Linked DNA regions of Homo sapiens: region 1 is linked to region 2. The links come from fine-mapping of genetic effects on gene expression. Tissue or cell type: tibial nerve. Region 2 holds a variant in brackets; the other region holds the start of a gene. All regions are shown on one strand. Distances are from middle to middle.

Region 1 (5,428 bases), 23 kb before region 2:
CCAAAGTGCTGGGATTACAGGTGTGAGCCACTGCGCCCAGCCCAGGTTACTTTTTAAATGGGGGAATTAAATGCTGGGTGTGGTGATGCAAGCCTGTAGTCCTAGCTACTCAGGAGGCTGAAGCCAGAGGATCACTTGAGCCCAGGAGTTCGAATCCAGCCTGGGCAAGACTGGATGGAGTTCAAATCCAGCCTGGGCAAGACAAGATGTAGTGAGACTCTGTTTCTGAAATAAATCAACTAGTGGGGGAATTAGGATAAATAATGTCATCACTTACGGGCAGATGGCCTTCCCAGGATGTTATCCTCAGCCAATGGGGGCTAGGGCCTAGGATGCGCATTTCAGAATACCAACAATTCCACCTGGTTTGGGGCACTGAATGGTTTGGGGAACTAAAGGTTCATCTTTGTTTGCTTGTGTAATAAAGGAGCAAGCTAAAAGTCATAGTCTGAGGGTAAATTGACTGAAAAGGATGGGGATCCTCAATCTGGGAGACAGTTTTAATATGCTTATATCAATCTGAATAAAGCATCTGGAGTAATTTTAACCGAGCCTCCTCTGCATTGTGGGCTTAAGTGAGACCTGATGGCTCGTCCACACGGCAATGGGTAGAGAGCACTGAATTCCAGCTACTCAGGAGGCTGAGGCAGGAGAATTGCTTTAACCCAGGAGGTGGAGGTTGCAGTGAGTTGAGATTGAGCCACTGTACTCCAGCCTGGGCAACAGAGTGAGACTCTGTCTCAAAAAAAAGAAAAAGAAAAACAAATTCTTAACATCCCAACAGAATGCTGCTACTAATAGTTATCAATTGCGTATCTATTGAGTATCTATTGCGTGGAGAAAGCAGGGCTGGAGAGCCAATGCCATGTATTATAGCTGGGCCCTGGAATCAAACTTCCAGGATTGACCCCTTGCTGTCCTGTTTATGGCTTTGTGATCACGTAACCTTTCTGGGCCTCAATTTTTTCATCTATAAAATAAGAGTGGGCCGGGAGCAGTGGCTCATGCCTGTAATTCCAACACTTTGGGAGGCTGAGGTGGGTAAATCGCTTGAGCCCAGGAATTCAAGACCAGCCAGGGCAACATGGCAAAACCCTATCTCTACAAAAATACAAAAATTAGCTGGGCATGGTGCCACGTGCCTGTAGCCCCAGCTACCCTGGGGATTGAGATGGGAGGATCACCTGAGCCCAGAAGGCTGATGTTGCAGCGAGTCATGATTCCACGACTGCATTCCAGCCTGGGGGATGAATGAGACCCTGTCTAAAAAATAATAATAACAAGAGTAATAAAAACAAAATGGGATTGGTAAATGCTCCATCCATGTTAGCCGCTGTTGTTAACGCTGTTGTTATTGGTTTCATTAGCCAGCCAGTGACTGTGGGAAGAGTGCAAGGTTGATTGTACCCATGTATTGGGTGCTTTCTGGGTCCTTCTCATGTCAAGTATGATGAGTGAGAAGTGAGTGAATAAAACATCTCAGTGGCCTGAGACATTTCTCTTTTTTTTCTTTTTTTGAGATGGAGTTTTGCTCTTGTCACCCAGGCTGGAGTGCAATGGCGCGATCTCGGCTCACTGCAACCTCTGCCTCCCAGGTTCAAGTGATTCTCCTGCCTCAGCCTCCCAAGTAGCTGGGATTACAGGCACCTGCCACCACTCCTGGCTAAGTTTTTTGTATTTTTAGTAGAGATGGGGTTTCACCATGTTGGCCAGGCTGGTCTCGAACTCCTGACCTCATGATCTGCCTGCCTCGGCCTCCCCAAGTGCTGCGATTGTTACAGGCGTGAGTCACTGCACCCGGCTGGACTGAGACATTTCTTATCTGTGACTTCCTTCTCTCCAGCAGTGATTCCCAGTGAGCACTGGTGACTTCAGTTCACTCTTTCTCAGGAATATTTTTTCCTGGGTCACTACCTGTGAACTAAAGATTTTCTGGCTTAACACTGTGAATAGGTAAACATTTATTGATCATTTTCTGTTAACCATGGGCTATTAGTTAAGAGATCTGATCTGTCACAAATGGAAGAATCTGCCCCAACATTCTTGAAATCCCATTGACCAGGACAATGTTTAGTTTTAGTTAGTTCAGTGCTTCTGAGGAGCAGGGGGTCACAGAGTTATGCCACTGGCATAAAAAACTAAAGAGAAAAGCCTGGGACTGGAAATTTGCAGAGCAGCTCCACCGGTTGAAAGTTGGCTTTGTTTAGTGCCCAACTTCGCAGAAGATTTTCCTCGGCTGAGTGGGCTTGGCAGAGCCCCGGCTTGAGAGGGTTGCTTAGCAATGAGATTTGGTGGCACCCAATTCTCAAGTAGTCAAGCAACCCATCAATACCCTGCTTCCCCCTCCACTAAACCTCAGCTACCATCCAGAGCCTCCTATTAGACAATCAAGTGTGTGCCAGAGGGAGGGACCAAAGGGGTGGGGTGGGGGGGAGTTTAATCATTGAACCAAGCAGGCTGGAGGTATTTAGTCCGCAACACCTCGCTCCCCAGGAGGTCTGCCAGCCTGGACTGGAAGCGTGCAACACTCCAGAGTCGTAGGAGTGAACACTGCACAGGAATCTCTGCCCATCTCAGGAGAAACCAAACTTGGGGAAAATGTTTGCGGTCCACTTGATGGCATTTTACTTCAGCAAGCTGAAGGAGGACCAGATCAAGAAGGTAAGGAGGACCCACGAAGCTGAGAGATGCCCAGCTCCTTCTTCACGGACAAAACTGATTCCCTTAAAAAAAAAATCAGAAGGGAGTGAAGAGAGCTTATTAGAAAAGATACTGGGAGCATATGACCAGTAAAAGACTCACTGAGGGAAGAGGGAGTAATTCTCCCACACTCCTGGGCATTGCATTACTGTCCTGAACCTTACACTTCACTCGGAACTTCCTGGCAGGTATTGGATGCGGAAGCGGGTGAGGAGGGTGTTTGGAAAGCTTGAAGAGGATTGTGTTTGCTGTAAGGGATGTTTGCTCGGAAAGGCCACAAAGGCGAGGAGAATCATTTTCAAAGAAGTTTTAAGAACTGTTGGAGCAGAAGGCTGGGCGCAGTGGCTCACGCCTGTAATCCTAGCACTTTAGGAGGCCGAGGTGGGCGGATTACCTGAGGTCAGGAGTTCGAGACCAGCCTGGCCAACATGGTGAAACCCCGTCTCAACTAAAAATACAAAAATTAGCTGGGTGTGGTGGCGGGCACCTGTAATCCCATCTACTCGGGAGGCTGAGGCAGGAGAATCGCTTGAACCCAGGTGGTGGAGGTTGCAGTGAGCCGAGATCGCGCCATTGCACTCCAGCCTAGGGGACAAGAGTGAGACTTCATCTAAAAAAAAAGAACTGTTGGGGCAGATCTGTTTGTTCATGTATTTGAAAGCATATAAATGTGGGCAGCAAGAAGGTGTGAGTTGCAATAGACAGTAATTGAAATATCTATTATTGGCACCTGCTATTTGCCAATGGTACACTATTCATGGTGTGCATTATTTTGTCACTTTGCTCAGGGAACTTGTCTACAAAATTCATTCCAAAGTGGGCTGGTTAAAGGTTGCCAAGGGTCAACAGGAGGGAACCAGGGTTCTTTCCAGGCAGCTAAAATGAGCCCAGTCTGCTACTCTGGCCACACCGGCTGGCTGTCACGGCCCTGGGCAAAAAGCATCTCTCAAAGTGCAGATGACAGAAGTCCTCCTAGCAGGAGGACTTAGCCAAGGTCACCAAGTATTTAGGATGGAATGAGGATTAAATCCAAGTTGGCTGACTCTTCCTTCAATGCTTTCTGCTGTGCCATGACTCCCTCCTGCTTTACAAAATGAATAAGGAGGCCAGGCACCGTGGCTCACGGCTGTAATCTGCATACACTGGGAGGCTGAGATGAGCAGATCTCATCTCAAACTTGAGGTCAGGAGTTTGAGACCAGCCTGGGCAACATGGAGCAACCCCATCTCTACAAAACATGTAAAAATTAGCCGGTCATGGTGGTGTGTGCCTACAGTCCCAACTACTCGGGAGGCTGCGGTGGCAGGATGGCTTGAGCCCGGGAGACTGCGCTACTGCACTCCAGCCTGGGTGACAGAGTGAGACCCTGTCTGAAAAAAAAAGGAAAGAAAAGAAAAAAAAAGGCCAAGGATGGTGGCTCATACCTATAATCCCAGCACTTTGGGAGGCCAAGGTGGGTGGATCACCTGAGGTCAGGAGGTTGAGACCACCCTGGCCAACATGGTGAAACCCCGTCTCTACTAAAAATTTAAAAATTAGCTGGGCGTGGTGGAGTGCGCCTGTAATCCCAACTACTCAGAAGGCTGAGGCAGGAGAATCCCTTGAACCCGGGCAGCAGAGGTTACAGTGAGCCGAGATCATGCCATTGTACTCCAGCCTGGGCAACAGAATGAGACTCCGTCTCAAAACAAAACAAAGAAAGAGAGAGAGGAAGTGTGGCCCCTTACAGCCCTCAGGTACTTGGTGGGATAAACTCCCACTAAATTCTATTCATTTAGAGAGTTGAGTTAGAGGTTGTAGCAAATTTAAAAACATTATAAAGCAATCACTTGTTGATTAGATTCAGAGCCCTCTACTGGCTACTTAAGGAGGCGCTGCCTAGGAATCCACTTTCTTTTGTTATCTGCTTAGTAAAGGCACAAGTTGCACCATGTCTCTCCCACCCCCAAGGGGGAGCCTTTGGAACCCTGAAACCTTTGATTCTGCAAACTTATTTCATTTCCTTGGGCTCCTTTGTGTTGGTTAACCTTTTGTACCCTAGGATCATGCGGGACATGTTTGTCCAACAGCCCTGGTGCAGGCTCAGGAGCACCCTGTGATGGGAAATGCAGCCTCTGCTGATGGGCTCCAGGTCCTTCTGGAAGGACAGTCAGCCTTTTTCAATGCCGGGAGCTGACCTCCCTCTCCCTGTGGGAGGCGAGAAAGTTGGAAGCACTTTTATAGCCACCTTAAGCAAGTGCCCCAGGAAGTCTCTGGGGTAGTGTGGGAGACTGGTTTATGGCTGCTGGGCTGAGTCATGGTTCTGAGAACACTCCTCCCAACACGTGGTGGAAACACACCTGGTCAAAAGGCACAGCTCGTTTCTCTGCGGTCAGGCAGTGAGTCCCCTTCTTCGTCTCTGTGCTTCCTGCCTCTAGAATTGTCCAGATCCTGGGCCAGCGGTGCCTGCAAGGGTTACTACTGAGACCCTGGAACAATTTCTAAAAATCTTCCCATACCAGCATGGAAACAAAAATAAAACAAAATGAAAAAAACGAAAATAGAAACCACTCTGACAGATTCTTTTCCAATTCAATATATTGACATTATTTGACCTATTGATAGCACCAGGCCAGACCTGGTCACTGACCTGCAGATTGTTCATCCACAGGAGAACTGGGAGGTTTTCAGTGTGTATTTTTCATGGCTCTGTATGTCAACATTACAAAAAAGTGGAAATGTTACTTGT
Region 2 (5,000 bases):
GCAGGACATGGACGTGGACATCCTGGCCCTGGTCAATGACACCGTGGGGACCATGATGACCTGTGCCTATGACGACCCCTACTGCGAAGTTGGTGTCATCATCGGTAACTCAATTGGACTGGTTTTTTGAGGGTAGGGGAGAAGGGACTGTTTGGGAGTTTCATTTCAGCGAGCTCTGAGTGAATTCGGCGGGAAGGGCACTGCACTATTTAGGAGAAGCAACATAGGGACATGAAAAATTCATTCATTCATCCATTCGACAAGTGTTTACTGAGCACCCATTGTGTGCCGGCCCCTGGGCTTGGCACTGGGTTTGGAGTGGGGAGTTCCTGTGCTCCTGGAACTTTCAGTGGGGAGGTGGGTGAGAGGCCCAGAAGGCCTAGGCTATTAAGATAATTTCAGGTGGTGGTTAGCGTGATAAAAAAACAAAAAACAAAAAACAAAGAGAGTGATGTGACTGTGAGTGGGATGAGGCGTCAGGGAAGCCTCTCTGAGGGGTGGCATTTGAGCCGGGACCTCAGTGATGCAAACCAGGGAGCAAGGTGGAGGCCCGAGGGTAGGGAGTCCCTGCCAAAGGAAAGAGGACACCTACAGGCTTGGAGATGGGAAGGGGTCCAGGGAGGGGGCACTGGGGGAACCCTATAGCCGAGTGGTGTCCGGATGAGGTGAGTGAAGGCTGAGAGTCGGAGGCCATTCAAGTGAGAGGCAGAGGACAGACTGGGCAGATTGCACAGGATGTGCACACAGTCACTGTAAGGTCACCGGCTTATCCCCTGAGGGAGACTGGAAGGCACTGGGGGACTCTGGGTGGGGGATGGATAAATGGATGCGCATTTTATTTTATTTTTTTATTTGAGACGGAGTCTTGCTCTGTCGTCCAGGCTGGAGTGCAGTGGCACAGTCTTGGCTTACTGCAACCTCTGCCTCCCAGGCTCAAGCAATTCTCCTGCCTCAGCCTCCTGAGTAGCTGGGATTACAGGTGCCCACCACCACGGCTGGCCAATTTTTTGTATTTTTAGTACAGATGGGGTTTCACAGTGTTTGCCAGGCTGCTCTCAAGCTCCTGACCTCAAGTGATTCACCCGCCTTGGTCTCCCAAAGTGCTGGGATTACAGCCATGAGCCACCACGCCCGGCCGGATGTGCATTTTTTAAAAGCCCATTTTGGCTGCTGTGTGGATAATAGATTACTGGGGACAAGAGTGGAAGCAGGGTGACCATCCAAGAGACCACTGGACTGTCAGGCAAGGTGCACTGCAGCTGTGGACCAGAGAGGTCGTGGTGCAGTGGGGGTTTCCAGTGGGTGGTCTCCACACCAGAGCGAGGGGGTCAGCTGGAGGAATGTGTGGGAAGGCAGTTTGGGGTACAGTAAAGCTGAATGGCTCTGACTTATAGGTTGTTCTTGAATATCCCCTTCTCCTTTTCCCATTCCTTTACCACTCCTGGGGAAAGTTCTTCTGAATTGCTTTTTCTTAATGTCCCTCAAGACCCTCCTCAGCCTGGCTTTCCCAAAGGGCAGGTTTTTAAACCTGAGGGGCTCCCTCCACCCTTCTGTTTCCAGGAGCCTCAGAATGGTTCAGGCCCTTGCCAGTCATGGCACCCGCCTGTCACTGTGGCTGCGTCTGGTAACCACAGATTGGGGGGGCCACGCCTAAACAGTGTCCGTGCATTTCTGAGAAAAGCTTTTTCCAAATATTACATTCTGCTTTTCTACATTTCTCATTTTCCATGTTGGCATTTAAAATACTCATACCAGAGTATCAGCCAAGGGAAGATACTGAAGAAAAAAAAAAAAAAAAAAAAACCCGAAAATTCAAACAGCTTTATTGAGGCATAAAAGTCCTCCGATTTTAGGTATACGATTCAATGATTTGTAGTAAACGTATAGTTTTGTAACCATCACCACAATCCGATTTTAGAACATTTCTGTCCTCCCAAAAGAGTCCAAAAAGATGGTGCCCACTTGCAGTCATTCCCCAGTGCTCAAGTGTTTGAGGCATTTCCTTGGAGCGATTTTGTGTTTGCATAACGGAATGTTGCTTTCTTAGGTGGTAGCTAATCACAGTCTAAGATAAGGATGCAGCTTATGCTAGAAACAATTTGTGGCAGGCCATAAGTAAAGAATATTTTTAGTATCAAATAGAGAGGAAGCTAAGTAGCTTAAGGAAAGAATTTTCAAAATTACCCTGGGTTGGTGATTTTTTGAAAAAAATATTTACAAGATTATCTTCATT[T/C]GTCCTCTTGTAAGAGCGCTTCGTCAGCTTTCATCCATATTCATCAGCGGACTTCTTCACAATTGACTCCATTCAGAACAGCAAACCCTGAGCACCCTGAGAAGTGCAGACTTGACATGTCAGCTGTTTTCCCCATGTGCTTGGGGCTTGCCCAAGCTGCTTCCCTCAGCGAGAGCCAGCCCCCAGGGAATGAAAAGCACTTTGTGGTACATTGAGGAGGACTCCCCAGCAGTCAAGAGTTCTCTGTCTGTGCCCAGCTGGGAGTCCTCTCTCTGCATATTCTCTCTGATCCCTGGTTCAGGAACTGGCACCAATGCGTGTTACATGGAGGACATGAGCAACATTGACCTGGTGGAGGGCGACGAGGGCAGGATGTGCATCAACACAGAGTGGGGGGCCTTCGGGGACGACGGGGCCCTGGAGGACATTCGCACTGAGTTCGACAGGGAGCTGGACCTCGGCTCTCTCAACCCAGGAAAGCAACTGTGAGTTCCCTTCTGGTGTTATCTGGGCATCGGCACCAGGCAGTGCCTAATCACTCAGGTCCCCTGGCTACCTGGGAGGCTTTCCAGTTGTGACTAGCTATCCATCACAACTTTCTTTCTTTTTTTCTTTTTCCTTTTTTTTTTTTTTTGAGATGGAGTCTCACTCTCTAGCCCAGGCTGAAGTGCGGTGGCACGATCTTGGCTCGCTGCAACCTCCACCTTCCAGGCTCAAGCAATCCTCCCACCTCAGTCTCCAGAGGAGTTGGGACTACGGGCATGGGCCACCATTCCTGGCTAATTTTTGTATTTTTTGTAGAGTCAGGGTTTTGCCATGTTGGCTAGGCTGGTTTTGCACTCCTGAGCTCAGGCAATCCTCCCGCCTCAGCCTCCCAAAGTGCTGGGATTACAGGCATGAGCCACCATGCATGGCCCCATTACAACAAATTTATAAGGCATTGCTTGTATTTCAGTTTCATCTGACAAATGAGGAAATAGAAGCCAAGGACATTGAAAGATTTCCCTAAGTCATAACCCTAATAACCCTAATTCTAATTCAGTCAGTATTTGTGGGTTACGTATGTGCATGATAGGCACTGAAGATAAGAGCACTCGGACGCTTGGCCGCAGAACACACCTGGGCAGTGAGGAGAAGGCAGGCACAGCCGAACTCGTCGTGTTCGCATGTCCCCCAGCCGCCTTGCTTTCTCGGAGGCCTAATCACTCAGCAAGTGGTGACTCTGGCAGGACCTTCCCTCTGTGTTTGCTGTCCACAATTTTTATTTTGATGCTCAAATTGTTTCAGATTTGGCCAAAGGAAGCCTCTGAAGCTGCCTCCTGTGTCCTTTTGACATGTTCCATCACTCTTTAAGTACTTCCTTATTTCCTGGCACCGTAAGACGTTCCCGGCTCATGTCGCACTTTCCTAGCCCCAGCCCTGGAATCAGCCATTTTGTCAAGACATGCTGGTGAATTTCAAGCACCTTCTAGGAGCGATTCAAACACTAGAACTGTGCACCCGGGAAGCACATTCCACTTTGGTGGCACCTACTCCAGGCACATGCCTGTGCTCTAGTGACCCATTGCAGTCATGTCCCAAGGACGTGGTGTCCATTTTTTGAATTTTATCATCTTCACCCATTTCCATTTTACTTAAAATAAATTCTATTCCTTCCAGGCCTGGTGGCTCATGCGTGTAATCCCAGCACTTTGGGAGGCTGAGGTGGGAGGACTGCTTTAGTCCTGGAATTTGAGACCAGCTTGGGCAACATAGTGAGACCAGTCTCTATAAAAATAAAAATTAAAAAAAAAAAATTAGTCAGGTGTGATGGCAGATGCCTGTAGTTCCAACCACTCAGGAGACTGAGGTGGGAGGATCACTTGAGCCAGGGAGGTCCAGGGTGCAGTAAGCTGTGATCATACCATTGCACTCCAGCCTGGGCAACAGAGCAAGACCCTGTCTCAAAAAATATATATATATATTATATTCCCTGACATCCACCCTAAATTTCTTTTGATTGTCTTCTGTTTCTTCAATGCTCAAAGACTTTTTTTTTTGAGATGGAGTCTCACTCTGTCGCCAAGGCTGGAGTGCAGTGGTGCAATCTTGGCTCACTGCAACCTCTGCCTTCTGGGTTCAAGCAATTCCCCTGCCTCAGCCTCCTGAGTAGCTGGGATTACAGGCATGCGCCACCATGCCCGGCTAATTTTTTTGTATTTTTAGTAGAGACAGGGTTTCACCATATTGGCCAGGCTGGTCTCAAACTCTTGACCTTGTGATCCACCCGCCTTGGCCTCCCAAAGTGCTGGGATTACAGGCATGAGTCACTGTACCTGGCCTGTTCTAAGACTTTTTATAGTGAACTATATAAAGTAGATTGTGACATAGATTGTTCTTGATTTTGTGTCTTATTGTGTTTGGAAAATAAGCATTATATTTAGGCCTGATGCGGTGGCTCTTATCTGTAATTCCAGTGCTTCGGGAGGCCAGGGCAGGAGAAACACTGGAGGCCAGGAGTTTATGATAAGCCTAGGCAACATAATTAGATCCTGTCTCTACGAAAATAAAAAAATTAGCCAGGTGTGATGATGCACCCCTATGGGAGGCTGAGGCAGGAGGATCACTTGAGGCCAGGAGTTCGAGGCTGCAGTGAGCTATGATTGCACCACTGCACTTTAGCCTGGGTGACAGAACGAGATCCTGTCTCCAATAATAATAATAATAATAATAATAATAATAATAATAATGTTCAATAGTCTGCCTGGGAAACAATTAGGAATTGTTG

Which allele goes with the higher level. Alleles are on the strand shown, and positions count from the first base shown. SD is a standard deviation of normalised expression in the study named.
As copies of T replace C in region 2, the expression in tibial nerve of the gene that starts at base 2,495 in region 1 goes up (moderate effect, 0.61 SD a copy in GTEx).

Evidence for each region.
Region 1: HKDC1 starts here. The variant in region 2 is fine-mapped to the expression of HKDC1 in tibial nerve (GTEx, PIP 0.99).

The regions. Positions count from the first base shown.
Region 1 is chr10:69,217,838-69,223,265 of GRCh38, forward strand. It overlaps HKDC1 (hexokinase domain containing 1), which reads left to right and starts at 2,495. Exons shown (of 18, transcript NM_025130.4): 1 at 2,495-2,661. The coding sequence starts at 2,599. LOC101928994 (a long non-coding RNA gene) reads right to left here. Exons shown (of 5, transcript NR_120648.1): 3 at 5,330-5,388; 4 at 5,040-5,188. RefSeq lists an enhancer at 352-521.
Region 2 is chr10:69,240,648-69,245,647 of GRCh38, forward strand. It overlaps HKDC1 (hexokinase domain containing 1), which reads left to right. Exons shown (of 18, transcript NM_025130.4): 6 at 5-104; 7 at 2,535-2,718. Among named protein-coding and RNA genes, the nearest start is that of HKDC1, 23 kb to the left of the region's middle. The variant T/C (reference allele first, on the strand shown) is at 2,234.